2 linked regions of the Homo sapiens genome follow. The protein of the gene in region 2 purifies or fractionates together with the protein of the main gene of each other region. This does not show direct contact. Each region holds a gene or a part of one and is shown on either strand. Other genes may lie near its edges.

Region 1 (3,828 bases), on a different chromosome or scaffold from region 2:
GTTTCACACAGAACAAAGAAAGAATCTGTTGTTTGTCTGCTTATTTTTACTTGCATTGAATAATAAATTCCCAGAAATGTAGCCAGTACGTAAGCTTCAGTTCCAGTATGAGGAGGGGAGAAAAACATTGACATGCATACGTGGGTTAAATAGTTCAGGCTGGGCGCGGTGGCTCACGCCTGAATCCCAGCACTTTGGGAAGCCAAGGCGGGTGGATCACAAGGTCAGGAGATTGAGACCATCCTGGCTAACACGTGAAATCCCGTCTCTACTAAAAATACAAAAAAAAATTAGCCGGGCGTGGTGGCGGGCACCTGTAGTCCCAGCTACTCAGGAGGCTGAGGCAGGAGAATGATATGAACCCGGGAGGCAGAGCTTGCAGTGAGCCGAGATTGCGCCACTGCGTGCCAGCCCAGGCGACAGAGCAAGACTCCGTCTCAAATAAATAAATAAAAATAAAATAGTTCAAAGAAAACTGTTTACTTGCAGAACAAAATAAAAACCAAGGCCTGGTTATTGCCTCAGGTTTTGTCAGTTATGTTTTGTTTTATGATGCACTAGAAGAATGGCACCTATTAGTAGAATGACTGTTTTCTTTCAGGGGAACACATGAGTGTAATTCATGAACCACAGACAAGTTGCTCATTTCCCTTGTTCTCTTTGTCTGTTCTCCCTAAAGCCATCTTTTAAGCAACTATTGAATCCTGTTTATGAGAAGAACAGAGAGGTTCTGTGATGGATTTATTGCTTCGTTGCCTGTACTTGTTGTCAGTGCTTCTAAAATTCAGTGTTTAAATATCTGGTATGTAGAATGAAGGGTCTGCAGTTGCACCAGTCAGCTTCTTTGTTGATGCAGAAAGCTGCTCAGAGTAATTGATGAGTTTTCTGCTTTGGCCTTGAAAAACCTTAACTATTTTATTTTAGTGTAATATCTATTACTTATAAAATCTAATTCTGAGATTATTTTGCACAGTGGAGTTAGATCAGATACGCATATTCATCTATATGTGTTTTAGAACTACTGTATTTCTGTAGCAATACAGTAAGAGTACTGTAACTTTGCATATGTGCTTTATATACTGTATATTACTGTGTTATACTTACTAATGTGTGTTATACTTACTAATGTGTAGGTTTATAGACATAAAGCCTTGGGTACTGTAACTTACAGGTTAAGAGATTTTGAAGGATAATTTTGGTCACACTTGATTTTACCCAGTGACATTAGACCCTATTTCCCATGTAAAATGAGCTGCTTCTGTTTGGAGATGCTCCCGAGTGGAACGTAGTGACTAAAACTAAACTGAGTTGTGGGTTAGGGCATCTGAGAAAATGATAATAGTTTAAGGATCTTTAGAAGTTGGAAGAGGGGATCTGTTAAAGTTCAGAAACCACAGGGGCTGCTGCATCATCCTCACAGCTTTTGGTAGTGGTGCTTACGGAGGAGCTTGTACTAGGGGGAAAAGGGTGATTTTTTTTTTTTTAATTGTCTGCAGGCTGTTAACATTCCGTTATGTGATAGATCCCAACTCTTTTATCTTGCTTCAGAAATTCCTATGCCTGTAACTCCTTTACAGGCACATCAAGTTCTAGTTAGTATCAGGTTCCTTTTATCACATCTAAACTATTATTTTGGACTTTTGCTAGATGTTTTTCATCCGAAGACTTGCCATGTGCATTTAATAAAAACGTTACCTAAATTAGGGAAAATGTTATCTGAAACTAAAATGCATCTTACAAAACAAGCAATTCCTTTTAGCCATGAAAGAAATTAACTTCCAAGAAAAAGTTGGCATTTACAGTTGGTTTAAAAAAAACTCACAAATTTGAGTATGATTGTCCTTGACAAAATCTATGAATTTGGCGAATTTTATGCTCTTGTTTGAAAGCTATAAAAAATGGTGGAAAAGATTAATTTTCACCACTGTAGCCTTAATTACATTTGACTGAAATTTATGATAAATGAAATAAAGCAGAGTTTTTGGCAAGTTTTTGTACAACTATTCATATTTACTTTGATTATTTGTATTACTTTTGTATTTCTCCAAGGAAGCTTACAGAACTTCAGAATAAGGGAACCAGTGTTTGTGCCATTTCAACAAGTAATTCTGATTTGAAACCAGACTGAAACCATGTCTTACAGATTTGGGTATGGGTTGAACCTTGGAAAAATAAAATCAGAAAGTCTTTCCTAGGTGGGTGTTGAGCTTTTTGCTTTTTCTCAGTGCTTTTCTTAGTTTTACCTGTTATTCTCCTTTCTCTTCAGAACTTGAAGGTGCACATTCTTGATACTGAAAGTTTTGAAACTACATTTGGCCCTAAGTCACAGAGGAAACGACCAAACTTATTTGCAAGTGATATGCAGTCTCTTATCGAAAATGCTGAAATGTCCACTGAGAGCTATGACCAGGGCAAGGATCGTGATTTGGTAACTGAAGACACTGGTGTGAGGTACATTTTTTTTTTTGCTTCTTTGTTTTTGTTTTTTTTTTTTTGAGATGGAGTCTTGCTTTGTCGCCCAGGCTGGAATGCAGTGGTGCGATCTTGGCCCACTGCAACCTCCGCTTCCCAGGTTCAAGCAATTCTCCTGCCTCAGCCTTTTGAGTAGCTGGGACTACAGGTGGATGCCTCCATGCCTGGCTAATTTTTTGTATTTTAGTAGAGACAAGGTTTCACCGTGTTGCCCAGGCTAGTCTTGAACTCGTGAGCTCAGGCAATCCACACTCCTTGGCCTCCCAAAATGCTAGGATTACAGGTGTGAGCCACTGCACCCGGTCGAGGTACAGTTTTGAAGTTCATGCAAATCTCATCATTTGCTCTTCTGCAACAAAACATTTTCTTTCAACTTATTTTGCCTGTGTGAAGCTCAGTGCTTTAACTCATATATGGAGTTATCTTCTTCCCTCAGACTGGAGACGTTGGTGAAATTGGGGCTAGACTGAAGATGTCTAAGGTGGCTTGATTGACAAAGGTCTCTCCTCATCCCCAAAATAAATAACATTTTTTCATTTATAATAGTAATACACCAGTCATAGACAAATTAGGAAATATAGTTAAGTTGGAAAATACAACAAAAAGAACATAACTCATGATCCCATTGCTGATATTAAGCATTGTTAATGCCTCTGTGAATATCGGGGCTTCCTTAACTGGAGGTCTCTGAGTTAATGGATGGCCTGTAAGGTTTCTTTGACTCTTTGAAGAAAATGTGGAAAATTTGTGAGCTTACATAAAGGCAGTAGGGTTTTGTGTTTTTTGTTTTTGTTTTGGGGAGGAGGAGGAGGAGAGGAAGTATCTATAATTTTAATCATATTCTCGTAGGGATCCATACTCAAAAGGAGAATCAGTCACCGGCTGGCTGCAGTGGCTTACCTGTAATACTAGTTTTTTGGGAGGCTGAGGCAGGAAGATCGCTTGAGCACAGGAGTTTGAGACCAGCCTGGGCAACATAGTGAGACCTTGTCTCTACAAAAAATAAAAAATTGGCTGGGCATAGAGTCCCAGCTACTCAGAAGGCTGAGGTGGGAGGATCACTGGAGCCCAGGAATTTGAGGCTGCAGTAAGCTGTGATTATTAGGAATATATTTCTATGTCAGTACATAATCAACAATAATATAATATTTATTGTCAGAGTAGTATTTTGTTTGTTATGGCCAGTCTCATTGTTGGACATTTATACTGTGTATAGTTTTTCCTTATGGTGAACAACACAAGGATGAAGCATCAATGTGACCGCATCTTTTTCATCCTTAATTATTCCCCAAAGATAAGTTCTTACGGAGCAAAGCATGATATCAAAAGGTATGCATGCTTTTTGATAGGCAGCTG
Region 2 (3,828 bases):
GGGCAACATATATATATTTATGATTTCCTTTATTTAAATTCAACAATTTACAGCAATTATATGCATCTTCTATATGCCAGGCATTGTGCTAATTGCCAAGTCTTAGACAAACATGGTTGCTTCCCTTAATTTTTGTTACATAATGCTTTTCGTTTTTCTCCTATTTCTGGTACATTTTTATGGTCTCTGGAGTTCTTTCTAGTCTTTAAATGTCAGTATTCTTCAGGGCTCTTCCCTCGGGCTTCTTTTTCTTGCTGTAATCTCTCTGATTGCATCCCTCCCCATAGTTACCCTGTATAAACATGTAACTCCTCAGTTCTTTTTCATTCAACCTATAGTAAGTGTACACTAAGTATATGCTTGGAATTGTACTAGGCAATGGGAATATGAAGATAAGATACAGTTCTTCTCTCAGGGAAATTACTAGAGAGACAAAAAAGGTAACAGTTAATATACAGTGAATAATGCTGTGATACAGTAGTACCGGATGCTATAGCGGCATATAAGAGATGCTGTGGGCACACCAAAGTCTATTTTAGGCATATCAAAGATGATATTTCAAAGAAGACAATTTAGGTGATCTGAAGAGCTAATCAGATCAAGATAGGAACATGGAATGGAGTGGACACTTGCAGGGAGAAAAAAGAACATGGAGAGAGGCTTGCAGGTGATGGGAGTGTAGCTTCTTAATTTAACTGACCAGATAAATCGGTATGGCGGGACTAGAGGGTGTTAAGTGGGCTTGTGTTGAGAGATGAAGCTGGAGAGATGAGCAGGTCATTAAGGACTTTGAATGTCAAGCTGAGAAATTTGACTTTATCCTGAGTACTGTGGGGAGCATTGAGGGGTTTTAAACAGTGGAATGGTATAATCATGTTTATATTTTAGAAAGCTCAGTTGCTTTGAATGGAAGAGCCAAGTTTGGGTCATATTTGAAAGCTTATTGCTGTAAACCAGTGGTTTTCAATACTCTTGAAAGGATATTTGGTAGTGTCTGGAGATATATTTGGTTGTCACACTGCCATGGGGGTAGTAGGGTGGTGGTGCTATAGGTTCTAGTTTGTGTGGTCAATACTCTAGACAAGACTGGCATTTGCAATGCTCTGTTGACAATGTCTGCTTGCACTGAGTTCAGGATCAAGACCATCCTGGCTAACACGGTGAAACCCCGTCTCTACTAAAAATACAAAAAATTAGCCGGGCGTGGTGGCAGGCGCCTGTAGTCCCGGCTACTCGGGAGGCTGAGGCAGGAGAATGGCGTGAACCAGGGAGGCAGAGCTTTCAGTGAGCCGAGATCGCGCCACTGCACTCCAGCCTGGGTGACAAGAGTGAGACTGCGTCTCAAAGAAAAAAAAAAAAGATTACTAACGTCACACAATTACCAAATTTGAATCACTTAAACAGAACTTGGAGGAGGTACTCATGTCTAAAACACAAGTGACATATGCTTGATTTGGAATACTAGAGTATCCCTTCCTTATTCATCTCCACTTTATGTACAAATCGGCTTACTTTTATTTCTACACAAGTGTTCTTGCCAAAGGTCTCCTTTACAATGAGACCTCATTTGAACTCTCAACCATGCCACCCTCCCCTGGTACACAGGCCCCAAGCTTCACCCAGGTGTCTAAATATTGCCAAATTTTTTTGGCACCAGAAAAGCCAGGCCAACTTTCCAGAGATGGGAATGGTCTTAGCTGAATGCAGAAACTTAAAGTATCTAGGGAAGAAAAAGTAATGAGATAACTATCTAAAGAATGCATATACAGTGAATAATGCATGTTACCTTTCTTGCATTATGTAAATATATTAAAAATCCCACTATCCAGATTTAAAAAAAAAAAAAAACTTTGGAAAAAAATTAGTAAAATTGATAGGAGACTTTCTTTTGAGAGTAGTCTGTATTTCTTACTATAGATAGTAGAGATGTGGACATTAATTTCTTATTATAGCAGATCTCAATCATGTGCAAAAATGTAGTGACTAGTAAAAGAAACACCCATGGTCTTATCACTCAGCTTTAACAATGGTCAATTCATAGCTAATCTTTCAACCACTCATTCATCTACCCAATCCCTCCCTGTCCACCCATCCCATTCCCCGTGCCCCATGTGCCTTGGATTCCAAAGAAAATCCTAGGCATCGTATCATTTCATCCACAAATATGTCAGTATGGATTCAAAAATAAGGGCTCTTTAACAACATCACTGTATCATTATAACACCCCATACAATGAAATATAATTCCTTAATTTCATCAAATATCTGGCCAGTATTGAATTTTCTTGGTTGTCTCAAAAAGTTTGTTTGTTCCAAACAGAATCCAAATACAATCCATACATTGCAACTGATTAATAACTCTTAGGTTTAATTTATATCCAAAGTGGATTTTTGATTGTAAGATACTGGAGGCCCGGAAAAATAAATAAGAAAGTAATATTTGAATTTTTGATAGAAAGCACAGATATTTTCTGAGTTATTTGCATGGATGATAGTCTTATTCAGCCACAAGAAAAAGAAACTAAGAGGTCCTAGATAGAATATAATATAGGCATCTTTTGGATTTGGTTTGGTATCATGCCTTTTTTTTTTTTTTTAATAGGAAGTAAAAGTCTTTCTGGCTTATGCTTAGTTATGTTTTATGACTAAAAATCTCAGTACTGGTGTAGTCTAATGGATGTTAATGTAAACTGGCTTTTTTTCTTGTCTGTGCATTTTTTGGGTAAGTGTTTAGTGGTTTAGCTAACTAAACTATGTATCATCCCAGTAAGCTGTAATGTGTTAGTAGCTATATTATCCTATTGAGATGGTATGGGCAACCCTTCATGTTCTCTTAGCTAGTTAGTGCCTGACAAGAGTGGAAGGTGGTGGTCTTAAGGAAGAAAGCGGCACAGGTAAACACAAGTGAAAACTGTTGTGTTTTTGAAGCAGATAAAAAGCAGAGACTTTTAGGCCTGGAATATTTTCTTACTACTCATTCATTTTAACGTTTACAAAGGAATATATCATTTCACTTAGGAAAATGACTACATTAATTCATACTTTGAAGATGGAGATGATTTTGGCGCAGACAGTGATGACAACATGGATGAGGCAACCTATTAGGCATGAAATTTTTCAAAAAATATTTTTATGATGCAGCTTCTGAACATTTGGACAGACTTGATTTGTATTTTATTTCTGATAAGGAATAAGTACTTGTTTCTGTTGTTTTGGACAAATAGTTGTTACCAAAATATTCAAAACCACTTTGAGTTTACATACTAGTTACCTTAAAAATTATTCCCTGACACTCTGACATTCCTTCTAAACACCTCTGCCATCTCTCTTATGTACTCTCATGGGTTTTTTTGTATGATTTGAATATGAATGTGCCTAAAGAATTTTTGCTCTCTTAATCTATGTATACATACTTGAACAAATCATTCTTGCTTAACTGCTGATCTTTTGTAAAACTATTGCTAGTCATAATGGATTTCTATAACCTGAAAGTTGATATAATACAGCACGTGGAGCACTTTAAAAACAAAGAAACTTGAAAATAATTTTATTTTTTACCTTTACATGGTGTGTTCTAGACTACTGCATTATGACTACATAAACCTACCTGAGCTCTTACAAGTACAGAATTGTGAGACAGAGGTTTTGTGATGGAAAACATACACATAGGGAAAAATACCAAACTGAGCAATATAAATTTCACAGCTCACATCTTAGCCAGTACAAAGAAACTTTCACATGGGGTGAATATTATAATACTTGAATTTGAGACTTAATACTGTATATGAATTAATCATCCCACTGTAATAACTGACATCTTCAAATAGTT

What was found.
Region 1: the proteins of POLR3G (region 2) and GNL2 fractionate together in Homo sapiens (co-fractionation; one large-scale study listed by BioGRID). This does not show direct contact.

Annotation. Positions count from the first base shown.
Region 1 is NC_000001.11:37,585,934-37,589,761, reverse strand, and holds part of GNL2 (nucleolar GTP-binding protein 2), read left to right. Parts: intron 1-509; exon of another isoform or gene 510-802; intron 803-2,266; coding exon 2,267-2,451; intron 2,452-3,828. UniProt on the Homo sapiens protein: GTPase that associates with pre-60S ribosomal subunits in the nucleolus and is required for their nuclear export and maturation.
Region 2 is NC_000005.10:90,509,036-90,512,863, forward strand, and holds part of POLR3G (DNA-directed RNA polymerase III subunit RPC7), read left to right. Parts: intron 1-3,017; coding exon 3,018-3,104; 3' UTR 3,105-3,828. UniProt on the Homo sapiens protein: DNA-dependent RNA polymerase catalyzes the transcription of DNA into RNA using the four ribonucleoside triphosphates as substrates.